Linked DNA regions of Homo sapiens. The protein of the gene in region 3 interacts with the protein of the main gene of each other region in a pairwise test. Each region holds a gene or a part of one and is shown on either strand. Other genes may lie near its edges.

Region 1 (3,500 bases), on a different chromosome or scaffold from region 3:
TTTGCCGGTCACAGTCACAGCCGTAAGTGCTGCCCCCTGATAGCTCCAGGCAAGTCCTGGCCCCTGAGCCAGGCATGCCTCTTCCTGCCAGCTGGCCCTACTATGCAGCCTGTCGGGCAGGAGTCCTGGGAGCCCCTGTGGCCTTCAGAGTATAACTTTCCCTTCCTACTGGGCTTGGTGGGATCCCTTCCACGGGGCCTCTTCAGGCTGCCTAGAACCATGGTGTGAGTGAGCCCTGGCTCTGGCTGCTGGGCCTCACCTGCTGTTCCACATTTCCTCAGATGCCCACTGATGCCCAGACCGCCCCCAGGCTGTTCCACCTTGGACATGGCTCCAGGCCTCTCACGCTAGGATTCTACCAGGTGCCATGTCTGCAACCTGGCCCTGGCTCCAGAGGCCCACCCCAGCTTTGTCCCAGGGAAGGATCGCAAGGTTCCCACCATGCCATGTCTGGAGTAAGCGGAGCGAGCTGGCCTGTGGCCTGTTGTTGTTCTGACATCTACCCTGGGGGCCCTCCCTGCTGAACCTCTTCATGGACTGGGAATGGCCACATCCAAGGTAGAGGGGCCCTCCTCCCTGCACTGCCAGTCAGCAACTCATGGAGATTCCTCTCCACCTCACACCCCTGCTGTTTTTTTTTGTTTGTTTGTTTGTTTTTGAGATAGAGTCTCGCTCTGTCACCCAGGCTGGAGTGCAGTGGTGCCATCTCGGCTCACTGCAGCCTCCACCCCCTGGGTTCAAGCAATTCTTCTGCCTCAGCCTCCTGAGTAGCTGGGACTACAGGCGTGCGCCACCACGCCTGGCTAATTTTTGTATTTTTAGTAGAGACAGAGTTTCACCATGTTGGCCAGGATGGTCTGGATCTCCTGACCTCGTGATCCGCCCACCTTGGTCTCCCAAGGTGCTGGAATTACAGGCGTGAGCCACCATGCCCAGCCACACCCCTGCTTCTATCACCTTCTCTTACTCTTGCCATGGACTAACCAGGTTTTCTTTTATTCTCCAAAGATCTAGTGCAAACCACTCTCTGATAATAAAGATAGCAAACACTTACTGAACTCTGACCATGTAAAGCATGTTCTGGGCATCTTACCTGTTGGCTCCATGTCATCCTCACAAAACTCTTTGAAATATGAAATGTGGTTATCTTTGTTTTACACGTGAGTCAACTGAGCACAGAACTAAGGGAGTTGCCCAGTCATACCACAAGTGAGTGACAGAGCCAGGGGCACTGATTATAGCCCATGCTCCTTACCACTCACTTACCTGGAACCACCATTCCAGGCTTCTGGGCACTTGAGCTCCCAACTGCTTGCCCAGTTCTGGCCCTTACACTTCTAGAATCTTCTTGACATTTGTCTCCTTATCTGGTCCTAATCCCCACATCTTCTCTCCTGGTCCTGGCTGTCTTGTCTTCCGTTGCCTTTAGCCTGGTGGTGGCAAGGAGAGAGCTAACCAACGACTGCACATTTGCCTCGGGTCGTCTGCAAAGTGCATAATCCGTGTGCATGTAGTTGAGAGCTGGCTGAAAATCCAAGTCGGGACTTCCTTTAAGACCCACTTTCTGGGTCCTCTCCCACCTTTCAGGCCCATCCTGCTGTGTCAGCTCTGCTCTGTAGCCACCACTCCTGACCCCAGCCACAACTAAAAGAGGCATCTGGACCTACCTTCCCTCCCTGCCTCTGCAGCCAGGTCCCCTGGAGTCTCTCCACTCATGTTGACAGCTGGCTCCTGCTTCAGCAAATGCTGCAGGGTGTTTGATTGTCAGCTTCCCGAACCAGGCCCAGTGCTGGGGACCCCGCAGGGTCACCTTCTGAGGATGGGTTTGTGGCCTCTGAAGAGCCTCTTGACAGTCTTAGCCTCCCCTCACTCAGCCCACATCAAGCAGCTGGGTTATAAAGAAGGGGAACTTGCTATTTAGAAGGGAATCAGCGAGAGCTGTCAGCAGGACATAAATATTCATAGAGGGAGGTTAGAACTTGAGTCCCTAAAACCTTGATTTGTGTTCGACCGTTTAAGCCTCATTAAAAAGTGGCAAATGAAAGTGGGAATATTCAGTGGAACTGCAGATAAATTGGGCTTGTTCAGATAAAGGCCCCCGACTGCCAGCTCCGCAGGCTCTGCCCAGAGCATGATAGCAGATTGGCTTGGCCACTTGTGGTTTGCCAACCTCAAAATTTTAAGATTTTGCTTAGCATGAGTTCCTGGCCTTGCTCTGGGGGCAATTACCACTTGTTTGGGCACTTGGTAGCCTTCCAGAGGTGTTCAGGGATGGAATTCCGCAATCTGCTCCCTCCCCAGAATGACACGCAAACCAAGGCCTGGCTCAAGGACTGTTAAGGAGAAATCTCACCTAGGACTAAGACTTGCACTGGGCAATCTGCAAAGCGTACAATTTATGTGCATGTCTAGTTGCTTCTCCTCCTCCTAGCTTTTTCTAGCTTCTATGGACAAGAAGAACGGAGGTTTCAGGCTCCAGTTGCTACGTGAGACCTAAACCGTCTGTCCTTGCCCCTCAGTCCCACCCAAGCTCAACTCCACTCATTGTGGCTAAAAATACAAAGACTGCAGCAGGCTAGGCCTTGGTGGGCACAAAGAGGAGACAGATGGTCACTGTTCCTTCTAGGACAGGAGCTTTAGACTCGGGCCTCTGCCGGGACCAGGCAGTTCACATATATAAGTGGAATGGGCCAATCTGTGGGCTAGACCTGACCTACGGGCTGCCAGTTGGCACCATTTAGAGACCCCTAGAGTTTGGGAAGATAAAGTTTGGACACAAACAGAAGGGCAACAAAGAATATACTCAGCCTCATGAAGGAAGGACTGGTTAATTTCCCAGGAGAAGGAGGGTGGAATGCACCCCGTCCCCTGCCCCCCAACCCCCACCCCCCTGCCACAGCCAAGGGCAGCAGGGAAGCCTGGTGGAGGAGGTAGGGCATCAAGAATTAAGCTTTATTTGTGCTCTTGAGTGGAATCTGAGTCTCAGGGTACTGAGGGGCTGGGCTGTGTGCTGGGGGTGCTGCTGTAAAGGGGAGGCCACATGGTGGCCTGAGGCACTGGGCATGGGGCTGCCGCTCTTCCCTGAATCTGGCTTCCCAGTGTTCATTTCCATGCTGCACAGGTTCTAGGTAGGCCTTTGGCCTCCCCAGGGACAGCCCCATCTCCTGGCTGGGTCTGTTTCCCAGGACAGCCCTCCTTTTGGGTGCCCAGTAGCAGAGAAACGACACAATTAACCAGGCAATTAACTCAAGGCTCTGTGGTCGCTCTCTCCCACAGGGCCCTGCTTATGGGGCTGGAGGTGGCCATGGTGGGGCTGCAGGGCAGGGGGTGGATGGTGTGTCATTGCCAGGCCTCCCTCGGGAAGAAGGAAAAGTGGCTGACATGGAAGTGGCTGAGATGGGTGTTGGCCGTGGAGAGAGACAGAAGGCCCAGAGACTTGGAATGCAACTCTCCTGACACTCAGCCCCAGAATGCCTGCTACCCTCTAACCAGCCATTGTG
Region 2 (3,500 bases), on a different chromosome or scaffold from region 3:
CCCCTCTTTTGGACAAAGGTGAAGAGACAACTTTGGATATGATAACTGAATATTTAACAATGTTTTCATTACAACACACAGGATCAATATAACTCAGTTTTTTGGTACCACGATTATGTAAAGCAAAAAAAAAAAATCCTCATTTAATAATAAGCAGTGGTCCTGAGGGAGATTAAATCAATTAACTATGCAACTGATGATGAAGTGAAGTGAGAGTTTTGTGGTGGAAGAGAGGCCCAGAACCCCCAGGTTGGAACACTCTGTCATGCTCAGCCCCACGGAAGCCTCTTCCTTTCATGAGTCCCTTCCAAGACACGCTGGTCTTCAGCCACCTCTAAGGCATCTTTAGCTTCTCATCCTACTTACAGAGCCTCACATGACCTAGCACAACCTCCAAACCCCCACTAATTCCCTTTCATGAAAATTTGGGTTAGGCTTACCTCTCCGCTTATATCCAAAAATGCTTCCAAATGTCACGAGGGCTGCATAACCAAAACCGATCAGGTCCATTGGCAAGGTTGCAATTCTAAAGCAAGGGGGAAAGGACAAATTATACAAAATAAAAAAGTTTTGGGGAGGGAATGTATCTAAAAATGATACGCTTATATGGTTTGGCTGTGTGTCCCCACCCAAATTTCATGTTGAATTGTGATCCTGAGTGTTGGAGGTGGGGCCTGGTGGGAGGTGACTGGATCACGGGGGTGGCTGCTAATGGTTTAGCAACATCCCCCTAGTGCTGTTCCATGATCTAAAGTTCTCACAAGATCTGGATGTTTGAAAGCGTGTAGCACTTCCCCCTTCACGTGCTCTCCCCCTCCTGTCGCCATGTGAAGACATGCTTGCTTCCCCTTTGCCTTCCACCATGATTATAAGTTTCCTGAGGCTTCTCCAGCCACGCCTCCTGTACAGCCTGCGGAAGTTGAGTTGATTAAACCTCTTTTCTTCATAAATTACCGAGTCTCAGGTAGTTATTTAGAGCAGTGTGAGAATGACTAATACAAAGACATTCCACAGAATTACAGAAATTAATTTCTCTAGTCTACTAAAGAAAGGGAAGTTCGGCCAGGCATGGTGCTCACGCCTGTAATCCTAGTACTTGGGAAGACCAAGGCAGGTAGATGGCTTAAACCCAGGAATTTGAGACCAACCTGATCAACATGGCAAAACCCCATCTCTAGTAAAAATACAAAAAATTAGCTGGGTGTGATGGCATGCACGTGTGATCCCAGCTACTCAGGATGCTGAGTTGGGAGGATTGCTTGAGCCCTGGAGGTTGAGGTTGCAATGAGCCGTGATTGTGCCACTGCACTCCAGCCTGGATGACAGAGTGACACCCTGTCTCAAGGGAAAAAAGAGGTTCAAACTTCACCTCTCCCAACCCTCTACTTTCCCCTTCATCCTCATCACTGTTAAGCACACTCTGGGGGGTACCTCAAGCTGATTCTCCTCTGCCTGTCTTCAAGATCTGCCATACTCTCAGCTGTTCAATTCTTTCCACTTACCCAAATAAAACTTCTGCTCTGGTCAGCCAGGTCTCTTCACTGAACTGTGACACTACAATCTTCACTTTTCACTTCCATGCCTGAAATGTCCTCCCTCCCTGTCCACCTCCAAAAGCCCGACTATCCCCTGTATGCCACCTCCCTTTAAACCTTCTCCCCTGACTTCTACCCTTATTAATTACCTCCTAATTTCCTTGACTCTAGTCTGTACTATCAAAGTGATCTGGAGCAAATGCCTTCTTCCTCCTCTAAATTCCTTAACTTCCACAATTCCATCTTATAATTCTTTCATGTCTGTACAGATATTAGTCCTCTCATTCTTTACAGATGGATGTCTTCTTGGAGATTGACTAATTCAGTTTAAACAATGGCTTTGTCATTAGTTTCCTTGCAAGATAGCTCTTCTGTGGTAGCAGAGACATCCACACTTAATCAATGGCAAATCACTAAAGAATACAATATAGCCCCAGCATGAAGTTAAATGGATGACAATGACATCCTACTGTGCATCATAGCAGCAGCTGAAACATACCCAGTGGTGAGAAGTTCCACTGAAACCCTGCCCACAATTCTCTCAGATGCAGTAGATAGCGTGCCAGCCACAGGCTAGAGATGTGGCCACTGGGCCTCAGACCATGCCCCTCCCTCACCCTCAACTCTCCCTGCAAGTTAGGAGAATAGATGAAAAGAGTTCTGGAGTTCTTTACAGCTTTTTAAGTTCTAAGACCCCTAGTGGTGCCTTTATTTCTGAGCTTTCTCACGTCTATATTTCTTCCACAGGGAAGGTAATTATCTTTGTAAATGTGAGGAATGGTAAGTGAGATTCCTTGCATATTTTTACAATTTTCTCATTGCTTATCATTTAGGTTAATGGGCCTTTTATCTCCCATTATCAATTGGTAATAAATTAATGTAGAACATAAAAAGGGGCCAGGCGAGGTAGCTCACGCCTGTAATCCCAGCACTTTGGAAGGCAGAGGCTGGTGGATCACTTCAGGTCAGGAGTTTGAGACCAGCCCAGTCAACATGGTGAAACCCCTTCTCTACTAAATATACAACAAATTACCCGGACGTGGCATGGTGGTGCATGTCTGTAATCCCAGCTACTCAGGAGGCTGAGACCGGAAAATCCCTTGAACCTGCGAGGCAGAGGTTGCAATCAACTGTGATCGTGCCACTGCACTCCAGCCTGGGCGTCTCAAAAAAAAAAAAAAAAAAAAAGAAGAAGAATTTTGAGCTGATCTCAGAGTCATCCACTAGAACTTACTATGAGGAAGGGTATGGGGGAGGGAAGCTGAGGCACAGGAGATGACAGCACCAAAAAGGAGGCAACACTGAAAAATGCTCATCATCTGCAGGAAGGAGAATTAAAACAGGAGAGCTCATCTGTGGCCGAGAAGTGGTACAGTAGGATGTAGCATGTAGGGAGAACCTGGGTCCAAAAACCATTTGCTGACTGAATGATGGCTAAACAAATAATAATAATAAAGAGGTTATAATGTTTTTGAGCAATTACTATGTGCTAGGTGCCATTCTAAGGCATTCTAGGTGCCTTATGTGTATCAACTCATGTAATCATGACCACACCCTATGGTATGTACTGTCATGATTATCCTCATTTTCCAGATGAGGAAAGTGGCACACAGAGAATGCAAGCAATGCCTGAAGGTTATACAGCAAAACAAAGATCTCTGACTTAGGGAAGTCTCAGTCCTAACCTCTATGCAACATCACCTCTGATAACTGAGTTAGCTGCTGAAAAAAAGCGAACATGTAAACCAAACATGTTCTTCAGAGTTTTCAATTCTGGATCAATCACATGCTCTTCATAGCTTAAAGTTGTGACCACAGGGCACTGTGTTCCATCTGGTAACTTACAATGTTCAGCCCCATGAACTTCTCATGTTTGATCCTACTTATTATCTTTCTAAAGGAGCTAACCATATGCTATAAAGTATGCTTATCTTCAAACCTGATACCACCACTTACTAGCTGTGG
Region 3 (3,500 bases):
TGCCACCAACAAATTTAAAAGATAAGTGATACATTGGGGAAGATATGATAATAGTTGATATCCCTATTATAAAAAGAGCTCTTAGAAATGAATATGTAAGATGAATATACCAATAGGAAACAGACAAAGATTATGAATATTCCATAGATGTTCAACCAATAGATGTTCAACTTCATTAGTCATGAAATGCAAGCAAAAAGATGTCTTTTCTTTTTTTTGCCTATCATATTGATCAAGATAGACAGCCCCTACTGTTGGAGAGTTGTAGGGAAGATGGATTGCTGATGAAATGTTGACTGATAGAAACTTTCTTAAGAGTTTCACCATAAGGGGCAGTACTGAAGATGTGCGTATTGATCCTATTTATAAGAGTTTATCCCTGGGAGACAGTCCCACAGGTGCAAAGGAGTTTGTACCAGTATATTTATCAGATCATTGTTTAGGATAACAAAAACTTAGAAACAACCTAAAAAACCACCTACTGAGTTAAATGACGTACCTATTCAATGGAGTTCTATGCAGCAACTGTTGATCTATATTTGTTAATGTGGGACCATATCCACAACAATGAGAAAAGGGGGATATAATACAGCATCTTTGGTCAGGTTATGGTCCCATCAAATGTTGTGGCTGTGGGATTGGAGAGGGGTAGGAAAGGTATACACCAGAATGTTACAGTGGTTTGTCTCCAGGTAGAAGGATTCGGGATGTTTTTCTTTTCTTCATTAGATGTTTCTGTGTTGTTTGAATTTTCTACAAGCATTTCTTATCTTTATAGTGGGAAGGGAATTGTTCTTAATGTAATATGGATTAAAGGGAACCCTTGGTACACTAATGGTGGGAATGTAAATTAGTGCAACCACTGTGGAGAAGTTTAGAGTTTCTTCAAAAAACTCAAAATTGAGCTGCCAAATGATTCAGCAATGCCACTTGTGGGTACACACCAGAAGAAAAAAAAATCTCATTATATTGAAGGGATTTCTGCCCTCCAATGTTACCAGTTACCACCCCTTTCCATGGTAATGACCTGGAAGTTACCATCCCTTTCCTAGAATGTTCTAAATAGCTTGCCCTTCAATTTACATTAACCCACTTCTTACTTTTGCACATAATTGAAAGTGGGTGTAAGTGGGTACAAATACAATTTCCAAATTAAACTCATTTTCTGATAGCAAAGAATAATATATGCTGTATTGGTCAGGGTTCTCCAGAGACACAGAACCAGGGGGATATATATTTTTTTAAATGGAGATTTATTATGAGGAATTAGTTCCTGGGATCATGGAAGCCAAAAAGTCCCACAATTTGCCATCTGTAAGCTGCAGACCCAGGAAAGCAAGGGGTATAATTCATTCTGAGTTTGAAGGCCTGATTGAGAACGAGGAGAGGTGAGGGTATAGATCCTAGTCTGAGAGCAGGAGAAGATGAAATGAGATGTCCCAGCTCAAGCAGTGAGGCAGGGAGAAATGAGTCAAATTCCTGCTTGCTCTGACTTTGGGTCTATCTAGGGCCTCCATGGGTTGGATGGTGCCACCACACTGAGGAGGGGAATCTGCCTTACAGAGCCCACCGAGCTGAATGCTAGTATCTTCCAGAAACACCCTCACTCTCACAGTGTTTAATATGGGCAACCATGGCCAGTCAGGTTGACACCTAAAATTAACCATCACACATGCTTATTCTAGAAAACTTGAGAAATATAGAAAAGAACAAATATCAATCACTCATCATTCCCCACCCTAGCTGTGAGCACATTTGAGTTCATTCCTAAAGGAGGGTGGGAGGAAAACCAAGGCAGACTTTGAGGTTTCTGATGTTGGCCATGATCACCCCACAGGTTCAAGTATAGAGTCCTGGAAAGTGGCTATTGGCGTTAATTCTGACAAATGTGTAGAAAATATCCTGACTTTTTGGTTTTCTCTTTCAACAGTCAAATGAGAATAAGGCTGAGAGGACCTGATCTTTTTGAGTCTTGGGATAAACTTGGAAGATAAAATTACAGAATAATTTGAGACACACATAAATGTTATATTTCAGATATTCTTTCTCTACTGAAAGTTGGTAGCAACTTTGTACATTTCTGTGTTGCCTTTGACCAAAGGACCCAGCTGAGCATTGGAATAGCTCACGCAGCATGTCGCTAAGTGGGAAAGGCTTAAAGGCAAAGGAGGTTTAACACCCAGATAACATGGTGGAGTAGTTGAGAGTACAGTGTTCACTTCCTGCCCTCCCATTTCCTGAAGGTCTGACCAAGTCATTTAATCTTGATGTATCTCAGTCCATCTATAAATTGGGTATTATAATAATAGTGAGATAGAAAACAGGCAGGACTTGTTTTCTGATCATAACCCTGCTGACCAAAACAGGATGTGGTCCAGATGAGATAAGGTTTAAAAAAACACTAGCCAAAGCCAGCAAACGGGAACGAGGGTGATCCCTGGCTGCCCTCATTGCTCATCAGCATGGGACACTCTCACCAGTGCCATGACAGTTTACAATTGCCATGACAACGACCTGGCAGTTACCATCCCTTTCCATGGTAACGACCCAGAAGTTACCTTTCCTAGGAAGTCTTAAATAGCTTGCCCCTCAATTTGCATTAACCCACCCCTTAATTTGCATGTGACTAAAAGTGGGTATAAATACAATTTCCAAGAGCCCCTATGTGGCCAACTCAGGGTGTACTGCCTATGAGTTAGCCCTGCTCCACAAGAAGCAGTGCCCTTCAATAAAGAATTGTGGTCTAACACCACTGGCTCACCCTTGAATTCCTTCCTTGATGAAGCCAAGAACCCTCCCAGGCTAAGCCCCAATTTGGGGACTCACCTGTCCTGTCCTGCATGACTAGTACTTAACTCATAGTGTTGTCAGGAATCTGAAATTGGTTCATATTTGCTAAAATACTTAGAAGGGAGCCCAGCTCATAGTAAACACTTGAAGTATTCACTTTTATTGCCTCTAAGACCCATTTGTTATTTACAAGGCTGCTGTGTGTGGACTCTTTGGAGCCCATCCCTTTGGGATTTTGAATGACTTGAGCACAGGCTAACACTCTCCCTGTCTGTGTGTCTTCTTGCAGCCAGGAGGAAGAAGAGGAGGATGAGGAGGCTGCCTCAAGGTACTATGTTCCCAGCTACGAGGAAGTGATGAACACAAACTACTCAGAAGCAAGGGGAGAGGAGCAGAACCCGAGGTTGAGCATCTCTCTCCCGTCCTATGAGTCACTGACGGGGCTCGACGAGACCACCCCCACATCCACCAGGGCTGACGTGGAGGCCAGCCCTGGGAACCCCCCTGACAGGCAGAACTCTAAGTTGGCCAAACGACTGAAACCGCTGAAAGTTCGAAGGATTAAATCTGAAAAGCTTCACCTCAAAGACTTTAGGATCAACCTCCCAGACAAAAACGTCCCTCCTCCCTCGATAGAGCCTTTGACTCCTCCACCGCAGTATGATGAAGTCCAGGAGAAGGCCCCCGACACCCGGCCGCCCGACTGAATG
Region 4 (3,500 bases), about 160 Mb from region 3:
GGCTGCCCCAGATGAACAGTAGCACAATGAAGTATTAATGGGGCACAGTAAAACTGAAGGAAGCTAAGCATTAGAAAATAATAAATGAAGAATACTCGCTACTGTAAATGGTGTTTGTTACATTATGGAACAATGATTTTCATTACATGGTCGATGCTATTCATGGTCCCCAGAGGTTCTCAAGGTGATGACTATTTAAAAATATGACTCAATGTTTTTCCTCCTTAAAAGCACGCTATTCCTCTGACCCAAACCCCATAAAGTACAAAGCAAACATTTTTAGCAATGGTTAAAAAAAAAGCTAGGCAAAATGTACATTATGACCATCTTTTTGTGGATACATGAATAGGGTACATGAGTTTGGGAGAGAGAAGGGGTGAGTGGCTCATGGACTTTTTGTTTTTCTAAATTAGCCCACAGAATAGAAAATTTCTATAGATATAGAAGCTTTAGGCAAAGTGTGGTGGCTCATGCCTGTAATCCAGCACTTTGGGAGGCTGAGGTGGGCAGATTGCTCGAGGCCAGAAGTTCAAGACCAGCCTGGCCAACATAGTGAAACCCCGTCTCTACTAAAAATACAAAAATTAGCCAGGTGTGGTGGTGCATGCCTGTAATTCCAGCTACTCGGGAGACTAAGGCAGGAGAATCGCTTGAACCTGGGCTACTTAGGAGGCTGAGGCATGAGAATCACTTGAACCTAGGAGGCAGAGGTTGCAGTGAGCCAAGATTGTGCCACTGCACTCCAGCCTCAGAGACACAGCAAGAGTGCCACAAAAAAAAAAAAAAAAAGACTTTAAAGAAAATAAATTTATTCTTTAAAGAATAAATAACTTAAAATAGAATAGAAAATTTAAATTCTGAACAAGGGGAGAAATGAAACATATTTCTTCCCTCAGTTCCACTTCTGAAAGTAGGACGATTCAATAGGTAGACAAATAAAAATAAATAAATCCAAGGTAACTCTTGGAAAAAATCCTCAGCATATGGCTAAGTCAGGTTTAGAAAGTTATTGCTGGCTGGTGCAGTGGCTCATGCCTGTAATCCCAGCACTTTGGGAGGCCAAGGCAGGTGGATCACCTGAGGTCAGGAGTTCAAGACCAGCCTGACCAACATGGAGAAACCCCGTCTCTACTAAAAAAAAAAAAAACAAAAAAAACAAAATTAGCTGGGCATGGTGGCACATGTCTGTAATTCCAGCTACTCAGGAGGCTGAGGCAGAAGAATCGCTTGAACCCTGGAGGCAGAGGTTGCGGTGATATTGTGGTGAGCCGAGATCAGCCTGGACAACAAGAGCAAAACTCTATCTCAAAGAAAAAAAAAAAAAAAAAAAGGAGAGTTATTGCTAAACTTGAAATTGAAAATGAGAGACTAAAAACAGTGAGTTCATGTCTAAATTTTAAACAAAGCCAAAAATTATAACTAGAATCAGGAGAAAAAAAAAAAAGATTTGCTCATATAACGTGAAAAACATTTTCTGTTAATGATTAGTAGCCACAGTGGATTTAAGAAGTAAATGTATTTCTATACAATGTTTTGCAGGAGTATATATTAGTATGTAGTGATTCCAATGTTTACCTTGTTAAAAATGGTAAAAATTTCTTTTACTTTTTATTTTTCTGGAATAATGAGGGAAGTGGAGTTTTTTCTTAACTCCATTTGTCTTAACAGATTCGGATATGTAAGCTTTTATTTTTTACCCTTTCAACCGAAAGTCATATTTTTCTCTAGCTCCTACTTTTGATATCTCTACATAATGCTATAGAGGTTGCTCCAAAAAAGTATTAATAGTAAATTTCAAGAAAAAATGTATATTTGTTTTAAGTTAATAAGTTTAGAGGTAGTCAAATATTAATAAAATGTGGATTACTTTCATTAAAAAAATCTATGAAAACATCCTTTTAGGCATACTGATTTATTTAGTTATCCCTATCCCAAAAGCAATTAAGTTAACAAGTATTTACTGAATTTCTACCATGTCTCAGGACAGTTATAGGCCCTGTTCTCACAGAGGTTATGCTCTAGAGGCCCTTTTTTCTTCATGTGTTTGAATACCACTTCAGATGCTGACCAGTCTATCCAGTAGCTTCTGATTTACTTACTTTGCATCCACGCCACCACATTTGCCTTCGAAGTTGTTTGGATCTGTTGCTAAAAGCTGTTGCATTATCCGATAAGCTTTCTATATCACATAGAGGATGGAGAGAAGGATTAAACGACATAACAGGATTCTTTTATCTAGTCACACAAAGATAAGAAAATATTAATTTCTACTTCTGCAAATTTATTCCCTTTTAAGCATGAAAACAGCATTCTCCCTTTTTTCCACCCACAAACTCTGGCATTCTACATTATTAAAAAAATGAAAACAAAAAGCAAAAAACAGCTTGCAGATCAGTTTGCTCACTTCTTTTTTATTATAAAATTAAGAAAAGTCTTTTTAGGGCCTTAATGCTTATAAATAAACTTAGGAAATCTAGTAAGAAAAATACTCTTTAAAAATTCAAATACTTGGCACACCTCTAGAAAAAAAATTACATGTTGAGAAGTTAGCTTCTTAGAAGATATCAAAAGTGACTGATTTTAAAGGAAAACAATATACATTTTAAATGTGACTAAGCGAGGTGTTTTTTTTTTTTCTAAAGTCTGTCAAAGATTAATCAGGTATTCAGCCATTCACCAAACAATATTTGAGTGGCAAGTACGTGCCAGGTATAGGTATAGGTATAGGTATAGGTTATAGGTGTAATGACTGAAAGTAAAGAAAGGTGACTAAGTTACCAAATAAAACATAAAATAAAAATAGCAGATAAGTTTGAAACAAGTGTTGAAAAGTGAGTAGGTCTTTAGGCCCTGAGATCATGAGAAACACAAAGTTCATCAATATCACAGGGCAAAAGAAAAAACAGCTCTACTCTTCACTCTTCAACAATGAAATTTTAAATTCTTCATTCTCCACTGAACAATTAAAAAATAATGAAACAATAAGATGACTCAAAGTAAAGGAGTTAAAATTAAACCATTAAAATCATATACTTAAGAACCAAATGCCAATTTCCTAAGCCAAGATTTGTAAACGTTGGCTAGACAAGTAGAAGACAAAAACTAGCAAACAGATTAGTAATATCAAGAAATACATGAAGATCTGTACCTGATTTGTCCTGTAGTTCATCTAGTCTCTCCCCTCTCTCAATTACCTTTGTAATATTTTCTTGCATGACATCAATAACTTCATCCACTTGATTCTGAACACTAGTTTAAAAAAGATACACAATTATTTATCCTTCTTTTGAGAATGCTTACAATTTTTAAAACTTTCATTAGACATAATAAAGAATAGCAAATTCTCAGAGAATTATTCAACTATAAAATTTAAATTTAAGACTTTGTAGCAATGTTCTTCCATTTGTGGGCTTCAGTACTCAGATAATGAAAGACAATATGATATAAATTAAAGTAATATTTAAAGATAGCTTACTTTTAGCCCTGCTTCTGACTTGTAA

Evidence for each region. Proteins that work in one complex are often made in the same cells at the same time.
Region 1: the proteins of TMEM51 (region 3) and CCDC167 interact in binary tests that used the Homo sapiens proteins (3 or more experiments, as listed by UniProt).
Region 2: the proteins of TMEM51 (region 3) and TMEM14A interact in binary tests that used the Homo sapiens proteins (3 or more experiments, as listed by UniProt).
Region 4: the proteins of TMEM51 (region 3) and VAMP4 interact in binary tests that used the Homo sapiens proteins (3 or more experiments, as listed by UniProt).

The regions. Positions count from the first base shown.
Region 1 is NC_000006.12:37,486,394-37,489,893, reverse strand, and holds part of CCDC167 (coiled-coil domain-containing protein 167), read left to right. Parts: intron 1-3,500.
Region 2 is NC_000006.12:52,674,113-52,677,612, reverse strand, and holds part of TMEM14A (transmembrane protein 14A), read right to left. Parts: intron 527-3,500; 5' UTR 511-526; coding exon 441-510; intron 1-440. UniProt on the Homo sapiens protein: Inhibits apoptosis via negative regulation of the mitochondrial outer membrane permeabilization involved in apoptotic signaling pathway.
Region 3 is NC_000001.11:15,216,247-15,219,746, forward strand, and holds part of TMEM51 (transmembrane protein 51), read left to right. Parts: intron 1-3,079; coding exon 3,080-3,497; 3' UTR 3,498-3,500.
Region 4 is NC_000001.11:171,707,566-171,711,065, forward strand, and holds part of VAMP4 (vesicle-associated membrane protein 4), read right to left. Parts: intron 3,250-3,500; coding exon 3,149-3,249; intron 2,236-3,148; coding exon of another isoform or gene 2,180-2,235; coding exon 2,100-2,179; intron 1-2,099. UniProt on the Homo sapiens protein: Involved in the pathway that functions to remove an inhibitor (probably synaptotagmin-4) of calcium-triggered exocytosis during the maturation of secretory granules.